2 separate regions of the Homo sapiens genome follow, and region 1 is linked to region 2. Evidence: fine-mapped expression QTL. Tissue or cell type: subcutaneous fat. Region 2 holds a variant in brackets; the other region holds the start of a gene. All regions are shown on one strand. Distances are from middle to middle.

Evidence for each region. PIP is the estimated chance that this variant, and not a neighbour inherited with it, causes the effect.
Region 1: it holds the start of SYNPO2, and the variant in region 2 is fine-mapped to the expression of SYNPO2 in subcutaneous fat (GTEx, PIP above 0.99).

The regions. Positions count from the first base shown.
Region 1 is chr4:118,886,072-118,891,223 of GRCh38, forward strand. It overlaps SYNPO2 (synaptopodin 2), which reads left to right and starts at 2,783. Exons shown (of 5, transcript NM_133477.3): 1 at 2,783-3,070. The coding sequence starts at 2,966.
Region 2 is chr4:119,022,969-119,028,120 of GRCh38, forward strand. SYNPO2 (synaptopodin 2) reads left to right here. Exons shown (of 5, transcript NM_133477.3): 2 at 462-613; 3 at 3,659-4,470. Among named protein-coding and RNA genes, the nearest start is that of SYNPO2-AS1, 41 kb to the left of the region's middle. The variant C/T (reference allele first, on the strand shown) is at 3,012.

The DNA of each region.
Region 1 (5,152 bases), 140 kb before region 2:
AAGAAAGCCTAGAGCTTGCTGGGCCCAAGAAGCCTAAGGGAGAAATGATTTAAGGAGGACACCATCACTAATTTGAAGCTAGACTTGAGTGGATTGAGGAGCAGAAGGGACATGAAAAAGTAAAAAGAACAAATATGAAAGTGTTTTTTTTCTTTGTTCTCAGAGCTCATTTTTTAAAAATTTTTACTTTAAGTTCTGGGATACATGTGCAGAACATGCAGGTTTGTTACATAGGTATACATGTGCCATGGTTGTTTGCTGCACCTATCAACCCGTCATCTAGGTTTTAAGCCCCGCATGCGTTATGTGTCGTAATGCTCTCCCTCCCTTTGTACCCCACCCTCCGACAGGCCTCAGTGTGTGATGTTTCCCTCCCTGTGTCTATGTGTTCTCATTGTTCAACTCCCACTTATGAGTGAGAACATGTGGTGTTTGGTTTACTGTTCCTGTGCTAGTTTGCTGAGAATGATGGCTTCCAGCTTCATCCATGTCCCCTGCAAAGGACATTAACACATTCTTTTTTTATGGCTGCATAGTATTCCATGGTGTATATGTGCCATATTTTCTTTATCCAGTCTATCACTGATGGACATTTGGGTTGGTTCCAAGTCTTTGCTATTGTAATTAGTGTCAAAGCTCATATTTTATGATGTCTCTTGTAACTATTGTTTAAAGGAAAGACTGGGAAAGTCAATTCGTGTTTCTGAAAAGAATCAAACTTGGGATGAGTATCTGGCCCTCATGACCTTCAAAGGGTCTCTTCCAGTGCCACAATCTCTGATTTCATTGTCCTCACTCCAGTGATGAGTCACAAATAAAATCACTTGATGCCTTTGGCTTCTGGGGAGCATGGGCTGTGTAAAATGTTCATTGTACCACAGGTCCTTGAATAATGCCATTTTATTCAACATTGTTTCATGACAACATTGATGAGAAAAAAAAATGTATTTCCAGCTGGGGCCACTGTTTGTATGGAGTTTGAAAGTTCTCCCCATGTCTGTATAGGTTTTCTCCAGGTCCTCTGGTTTCCTGCCACATCCCAAAGCTGTGCTCATGAGATGAACTGGCATGTCTAAATGGTCCCCATCTGAGTGAGTGTGTGTGTGTGTGTGTGTGTGTGTGTGTGTGTGTGCACCCTCTGATGGGATGGTCAGGGCTGTCCAGGGCTGATTCCTGCCTTGCGCCCTAAGCTGCAGGGAGAGGCTCAAGCCACTGGAGATCCTGAATGGGAATAAGTGGGTTGGAGGAGGAATGAATGTATGGATGCAAATTATTTTCAAAAAAAATTCATAAAATATATGTTAATCACACAAATGCACAGCAATAGATGATGCTGTATGAAATTTCTCAGTGAGCCTGCTATATTTGTGGTGGTTTTGAACTGCATTGTGACAGGAGGTACTCCTTATAATTTTCCTTTTGCAAACATTTATTCCTTGATTGAATCCACCACCACTACAGCTGCCCTCACTCACTGATTCACCAAAAATTGGGTCCATGATTATCTTGTTTTTATTAATCTTTCTTAAATGCATGTGTAGCTGACATTTATTTCCATGTTTAATATTAGAAGTGTTTTAATCTTATTTAAAAGTTTGGTGATGTCTTTGTGACCAGAAATAGACTGTAGTCACTTAACCTTGTTTTTATCAATTAGTCGATGGTAAAATTGGTTTTAAAGTCACAGTTTCCATGAACCTATCTGTGACGTTTTAAGTGAGGACTTACTGTATATAGTGCTTCTTAGTGCTGAAACAGGCAGCGTGTCTGGAAATTTTGTTTGGTACCACAAGTAACACAAACAAACTTTCCCAGGCTCTTCCTTATTTAGTATGTTTTTATGTGGATGAATGTTATGGAAAACAAAAGTATTATAGGAAAATTAAAATGTCCTTTTTGTACATTTTTGGCAGATTGTATTCAGATTTAAAACATTTAAATATTTGGAATATACAAAATCTGCTTTTATATTGGACCACCCAGATTCATGACATGGGATGACAAACTATAAAAATAAGAAACCTGTAGGTGACATTGTACATTTTATGCAGTTGACTAACTGTTGGGTTTGGGTTTAAGAAGATCAGCAGGTAGAAAGAAAACAAAACACGTTAAAATTTAACATACCCAAAACTATGCAATAGATGTAATTATAAGAATGTAGTTTCCAGGAGAAAAATTCATATTCATTTTCTCTCTTTCTCTCTCCCTTTCTGTCTCTTCTCTTCCCCTTTCTCTAAATATATGGTTCAGAAAGGTACTTTTCAGAGCTGGAGGTTTATTAACAAAAAGTTTGTGCTTTCTTTTGTTTCCTCTTATAGGAATAATTCAGCAGAATGCAGACAGAAAAGTAGTAATTTAACTCATTTTAACTCTTTTTTGTCTATTCCATTCATAAATGTGGCAAGTCTCAAAACATTTATTTGAGAGAATCTAATCCTCTAGTAGTTGAATTCCCAACGCTCCTATTTTAGGACGTCATTCATGGCGTGGAGATTAAACCTTCATGTGTCCTTTACTATTTACAGAATTATTAAATGTAAGTTTTTCAATCATACTTATACCATTAACTGCTTGGATTTAATCTGTTAGTGCAAGATAACTTTGGCTCTCCCTTCCGTCCTCCTTTCCCTTATCTCGCCCCACGTGAGGACATTCTCCTGTGTGTGAAGCTGCTTTCCTTTCCTCGAAGGTGGGCCGAGCAAAGGAGAGTGACGCAAGAGTGGGCTGTGTCCTGGATGCTGCGAGCGCCTCTGCCTCCTTGAGAATGAGCCCATTAGCCGCACAAATTCGCAGCAGGCGGCTGGGGCGGCGGCTGGGGCAGCGGCTGCAGCAGCGGCGGACGCTCTGCATTACCCAGTCTTGCGTCCTCGGCAGGCGCCCGAAGCTGAGTGCGCATCCTCTACCGCACCCAAGCTTCGTCTGTCTCGTCAAGCTCTTCATGCTGCCCAACTAAAAGGAAAACATGGGCACAGGGGATTTTATCTGCATTTCCATGACTGGAGGGGCGCCCTGGGGGTTCAGATTGCAAGGTGGCAAGGAGCAGAAGCAGCCCTTACAAGTTGCAAAGGTAGGACCTGAACGAAGTGTCACGGCTCTGTGCTAGGAAGGAAGGAATGAAAGCAACCTGCTGATGGTGTTTTCAGGTTCTGATGCAGAAGTCTAAGTATTATTTGATTTTGCTGCGGATATTAAGATTTTTCTAGGAAGTGAGTTATTTTCTAAGAAACTTTGGAGAGTAATGGGCCACATCCTATGTAATTAACTTGCAATCGATGAGGGGTGGGTGGGAAGAATGCCATATTTATCAGCTGAGGAAAAGGCCTAGTTAACCATGTTCTTCTGACAACAAGCAAGACACTGGGGAGCGTTTCTTCCAGGCAATTTTAGAATGTTCAGTTGAGTTATTGTTTGATGTCACTTCACTTGGCTCTGGCAGAGGAGAAACGCTCAGTTCAGCATAACGACTTTGCTTGGCTATTTTGGGGACTCATATAGAGTGTTGGTAGTGACATTTATTATGCAGCATTCATGAAAAGGCCAATGTTGGGCAATAATTTTAAAAGTATGATGAAGTGTCATAAAATCTATTTAAAAGAATACCCTTTTAAGGATTTGACAAATAAATGCAAAAATCCAATAAATGCTGTATTCCTTCTTATGTACTCTTTTGGTCAAGATCTCAAAAATAAACTTAGAAGATAATCTAAATATATTATGAGTAACTAAGAGGTAACTTTGTAACACATTAATAACTATTTAAAATGCTTTAAGTTTTTATTGCCATTAGATTGCCTGCATTACTGGTTAGCCCAAGGGGATCTGGTATTCTCTAATTGGCATTCAGCTAAAATAAAACTTAAAATGCACAAAACTAAGCAAACTTTTACCTAACCTTATCATCAAATTGCAAATTATAGTATTGTATTGAAGAACATGCAAGAGCATGGGATTAATTTCCTATTTTATGCTTATATTAAAAATGGGTACAGATCTTTATGAAATACATGGGCCATTGCCTTTGTAGTTATTGTTTGTTTCCCTCTGGCTTTTACTCTTTTTTTTTTGTAGTTATTGTTTCCCTCTGCCTTTTACGTTTTTTTTTTTTTAGTGTCCTTTGCGAAGAAAGAAGTTTCTTTGAAACTCCTTTTTGCTTCCAGGCATCATATGTAAATCCTTTCGTAATGTGATGGTGGAATCCTGCCACCTAGTGAAAATTGCAAACATCAAGAATGAACCATAAAACAGTAGATGAAAAGCAGAGTTTTTATTACTGGAAAGTTCCTCCGAGGTCTGCAGTTCAACCCATGAATTTTAGATGAGGAAAGAGCCCAGAGATGTTAAGTAACTTGCCTTAAGTTTTCAGCTTGGAACTGGCAGAGTGATTAAAGGCTCAGAAAGGTGGTTTTGTTGGGTTCCTTTAGGAGTCAATAGCAGGCAACCTCAGATAAAATATGAATGCCCAATTTAGCATATGTAGAATTCATGACACTGAAGCAGATTTGTCCTGAGTCTAGAATAGCAGTTGGCTGGCTCTAGGTATGAGATTTGGGTTCTAATTCCAGCTCTGATCTAACTTGCAGCCTGGCCTTAGGAAAATCTCTCACCCTTCCTGTCTCATCGGTTTCTCTCTCTCTCTCTCTCTCTCTCTCTCTCTCTCTCTGTGTGTGTGTGTGTGTGTGTGTAGGGAGAGAGAGACAAATATTTTAACTTAGGTGGTAAAGAAGTAAGAAAGAAATTGGACTGTGCAGTCTACGAAGCTCTGTCTTGCCCAAGTATTCTACGATCCTGATAGTGTACAGTTTTAGAATCGCTTGCCTACTAATTGAAATATGGGGACAGAGTGGCTGAGTGCTGTTGTTCTCTGGTGGCTCTTTGGCAGCCAGGCCTCAAGAATAGAGTGGGTAGTGGGTTTCTTCTGAGTTCTGCATGTGACGATTTCAATGTGGGACCTCTTTGCGGCGATTCACTGAAGAGCTGAAGCAGATTGCTAGGAAAGGGTGCTGTGGAGATTCTCTGCTAATGGCATCTCTATTTTCAGGATTCAGTAAGGTTGTTAGGCTATGTCAGAATCCAGTCCTACACTCCCCCTAAATCATCCTTCCTAAAATACCCAGCAATACATTTGTGGTTTTCAAAAGATCATTATTAA
Region 2 (5,152 bases):
GGTTTCACCATGTTGGCCAGGCTGGTCTCGAACTCCTGACCTCGTGATCCACCCGCCTTGGCCTCCCAAAGTGCTGGGATTACAGGCATAAGCCACCACGCCTGGCCTGAATAATTATTTTTAATGCCATCAATGTAAGCCTTTAACATCTTTTTTCACTCTTCTCTATTTTTTATTTCTTTAATTCTGTCTGGTACCTTTACATTGATTTATTTACTTTCTTTTTTCCTGTTTACTTACAATGCTATGAATTAAATGTTCATATTATGGTACATGATAAAGTGTGTGGCTGTGTGTGTGTTCATAAGGTGGTAAGAAGTATTTAAATGGTCTTACAGGTTAACAGGTGAATTAAAATTCAGGGCTGGTGTTACTGTTGACAGATTTGTTTCTCAGAGATGGTGGCTTGCTTTTTACAAATTATATCATTCTACTATGTCTTCTTTTTTTACTCCACTCAGATTCGAAATCAGAGCAAAGCCTCTGGGTCTGGGCTCTGTGAGGGAGATGAAGTGGTTTCCATCAATGGCAACCCTTGTGCAGATCTCACCTACCCTGAAGTCATCAAGCTCATGGAAAGCATAACAGACTCTCTCCAAATGCTCATCAAAAGGTACAACAGATTTGCTGGAATATGTATTTTCTCTTGAAGCTACATGGGAATGATTATAGCTTTTACTACATATATAACTTGTCATTTATGGAGAAATTAGGGGTGCTTTGTAGAAGGTTAGGTATAGTTAAACAGAAACACCACTGTGTTTGAAAAATAGTCAATTCTAGTCAACCAAACTTTCTGGTTAATTGAGAATTAAGTTGAAAATGCTTGTTTCAAGCACTTTGTTGAAAATCTTAGGTATTTTAGGCTCCTTCCTTAGAAAGCTCAGTATATTGAGCATAACTTAATATTTCTTTGATAGGTCAAGATTTTGTGATGGATCAGAATCACTCAATTGTAATTATCAGATGCACAGATGAATTAAAAATGTTTAAATATTAGACCATTAAACTGTACAATTTTTCATTAAAAGGATGCTTAAGAGACAGAAAAGAGAAACAACAACAAAAACTTACAAGCAGCCGGATTTCTCCAGTAAAACCAATATTTGAGGATGGACAAAAGCAGATGATTAGAATAAGGTTTTTGCACGACCAACACAGGTCATTTGGGAATTCAATCTCTTCAAATACCACCATCCCCACATAGTTGTTTAACAATATAAAAGAAACCTTTAAATGTAAAAAACAAAAGAAAACAATGAGGACAATAACAAGGAAAACTACAGCATTGACATTTTTATGGTGTACAAATCACAGTACAATCCATACTGATTTTGCAACGGAAGCTCTGGCTATTGCATGATAATGAATCCAGAAAGGAAAGCTTTGGCTTCCTGGAGAGCAGCTTTTAGGAAGATGTCAGAGGACATCTCAAGATGAACCTCAAGGTCCTCCAGGTTTTTCCTCAACTCTGCAGAAACACTACGCACAGTTACCCCTCTGCTAATCATTCAGTATGATTCTGTTCCGGGATGAAAATGAACTCACTATGGCCAAAATCTTGAGACAACAATGGAAATCTAGCATTATTCTTATAATCTAAATATTTACCCATCAAACTCAGTGTTTAAGGCCTTAGAATCCTTCCTTCATGTTATGAAGAGAAAATAAGTTTATAAAATACATAATTTACTAATACATAATTAAATTTATAAAATAAAAAAAATTACAAAGTAAGTAACTAATTGGTAGGATTCAAAGTGGAATCTCAATTGAAAATCAAGTCAAAAGCAATTATTATCATCACCACCACTACCACTATTTTAAATATCTGAATATTGTTTCCTGCAATAAATATTTCTGTCACTCATATCACTGTCATCTATCAGTAGAGGACAAGTGTTTTTACTTTTCCTGAACTATTGCCCAGAGATAGCTCAGTAAGACTATTTTAAAATAACTCCTTTAACATTCCATCTCTATTATCTTGAATGTTCTTAAAATAAGATTTTAAAAATTCTATAATTGTGACACATAAATTGTGGACTTGATGAATACCTATGTAGACTGATGGGAAATGAATGTTTTAAGGCATAAAGCTTTATTCGCTCATGCTTTTATGATATTTACTCATGTCTATTTATTTTACTTCAGCTGCTGATAAATGTTAATATTTATCTGGCCATTTGTCTGTATTGGTCTACAAGGCTGGCATGAATTGAAACTATTCTCTTCTCAGCTTCACAATTGATTGCTAACGTTATTCAAAGTGATTTAATCTACTTCCATCCCAAGGCCTTCCTAAATTAAAACTCTCTGACCTTTTGGTACCCTCAAATTCAGTTTAACAATGTATTTAACATTTTCTACATAATAATGATCTAATTTGCTAACATCATGCTTTTTTAATACGATATTATAATGTTGTATAAATACTGTATTACAGGGAAGCTTTTCCAATTACTTGCGTATAGAGAAAGGTGCATTTTGTTTAACTGTTAGTTTGTTTTCATTTTGTTTAGTTTTGTTTTGCCAAATGCAGTTGAAAGCAAAGGTAGGAGTAAGTATTTTGAGCATTGGTCGGAAATTGCACTACCACATAAATTCTAAGGTAAATTCCTTTGAGTAGAATCCAAGTAGAAGCTCACGCCCTTCAGCTGACGTGCCTGCATGAGTCATAACTGTCTTTTAAGGAAGGAGGAAAGGGGCAAAGATAATTATGCTGCTTCCAAAATTAAAAAAAATACAAATATAAAAAATGAAGGCATTTCCTACAGCTGTTCTGTGAATAATACCTCTAAAAACATTTACAGTTTAAATTAGAGTTTCAGAAAGAAGTTATTTAACTCTTAAACTGACATTGCTTCTTCTCAGAAACCCAAATTTGCACAGACAACTGGGAAGATCAAAATCAAAGAGCTGTGGTGTACAGCTCTAGGCTCCTTAGCTGAGAGATAAAGGAACAGTTTGACTTCAGATATCCTAAAAAGAAAATGCTCCAAGAAACAGAT[C/T]CAAATAGAAGAAAGGGAGACATCTCAGATTATAAATACTCCATGACTTAATGATTCATTGCAGCACGGAAAGGATTTCTCTTTACGCAAGAGTACTGGGCTGGGTCCACTTATTACGAAACACATGCTCACTGGGGCTTAAAAAACAGCTTCTATTTCATTCCTTTCAAGAAAGCACAGCCTCTAAAAGGACTAGTTGAGTTATCTGTAAGTTAAGATTGATCTGAAGGTGCTGGATATGTTTATGTGACTTCATAATGTCTAGACCAAAACTTAGTCAATAAGACATTGAAATGCTTTGTCACATTCTAGCAAACTCATTATAAGAGATACCCAGATTCCAAGTACTTACAGATAAACGGGATCCATGTAGTTTTTTAAAAATAAAAGCTGAATTTAGGATGGATTCAGGTTTCATAATCTTGTGTAAGAGTTTCTTTGTGCTTTTAAAAAAGTTTATTTGGTATCTCTTTAAGTAATAATATGAACATGTTGCCACCTTCTGTTTTCAAATATGTTGCAACTGACATTTAGAAGAAAATATTTTGACTATATCACATATTAGACATCACAAAAGTGTCAGGAAGTTCTTTGGCAGATGTAACATAGTCTGATTTAAGTGTCTGGAATGATTTTTCTGTGTGCAGACCATCCAGTGGAATAAGTGAGGCTTTGATATCTGAAAATGAAAACAAAAACCTCGAGCATCTCACACATGGGGGTTATGTGGAAAGTACCACCCTGCAGATTCGACCGGCCACAAAGACCCAGTGCACAGAATTCTTCCTCGCCCCTGTCAAGACTGAAGTTCCCCTAGCTGAGAACCAAAGAAGTGGTCCCGACTGTGCAGGCAGCTTGAAAGAAGAAACAGGCCCGAGCTACCAAAGGGCTCCCCAAATGCCTGACTCCCAAAGAGGACGCGTGGCAGAAGAGCTGATCTTAAGGGAGAAGGTAGAAGCGGTACAGCCTGGGCCTGTGGTTGAGCTGCAACTGTCCCTTTCACAGGAGAGACATAAGGGCGCTAGTGGCCCTTTAGTGGCTCTCCCGGGAGCTGAAAAATCTAAGTCTCCTGACCCAGACCCTAACTTGTCACATGACAGGATTGTCCACATAAATTCGATCCCTACTAATGAGAAAGCAGACCCTTTCCTGAGGTCCAGCAAGATAATCCAGATCTCCAGTGGCAGAGAGTTGAGAGTGATCCAGGAAAGTGAAGCAGGAGATGCGGGACTGCCCCGGGTGGAAGTGATCCTCGACTGCTCTGACAGGCAGAAGACAGAAGGGTGCAGGCTTCAGGCAGGAAAGGAGTGTGTGGATTCTCCAGTGGAAGGAGGGCAGTCAGAAGCACCTCCTTCTCTGGTATCCTTTGCCGTCTCATCAGAAGGCACAGAGCAGGGAGAAGATCCACGCTCGGAAAAAGATCACAGCAGACCTCACAAGCACCGAGCGCGGCATGCACGTAAGTTCTGCCTGGGCTTTCAGAAGGGGCTTGGGAGTTGGGGGCATTTTGCTGCTTCTTTGCTTGCATGAGTTTTTCAGCAAGATTTTTCTTATGTTTCTCATTGGCTTAAAGAAATATTTAATTAATGCACAAAATCACAAATGTGAAATTGTGGAGAATACCAATTTCTAAATAGGAAGCAATAAGTCCGAACTTCATATAGATTTAAACATTTTTCATGAATTTCTTTTTATCCCCAAAGGCACAGGAACTGTTAAAGAAAATAATATTGTCAATGTGCCTGTTCATTTTGTTTCAGACAGTTGAAATAGTTCATGTTAAAATAGCATAAGAAAGCACTTGAAGTCATGTGGACTCAGTTTAAATGTCAAAAACTGTTGAGTCTGCTACTGAGAGGTGTCTTTAAAATAAAAGCTCTACCATTGATATCAAAAGCAGATCCTTGTTTTGAAAAAAAATCATTGTGCAGCTTGATGATGCTTGCAGAAGTGAGTTTGACAGACAAGGACATGTGTATACTGAGCAGTTACATGATCCTCTCCGTTGTGTAAGTCTTCATTTGACTGCAAAGTGTTTCATCTACCTTCTAGACACAGAAGTCAGTCTCCAGGGCCATGTGGAGGCATTTAAATGTCTCCAAACATAAAATATATTTAAATTCAGTGCTTTGTATGGCATT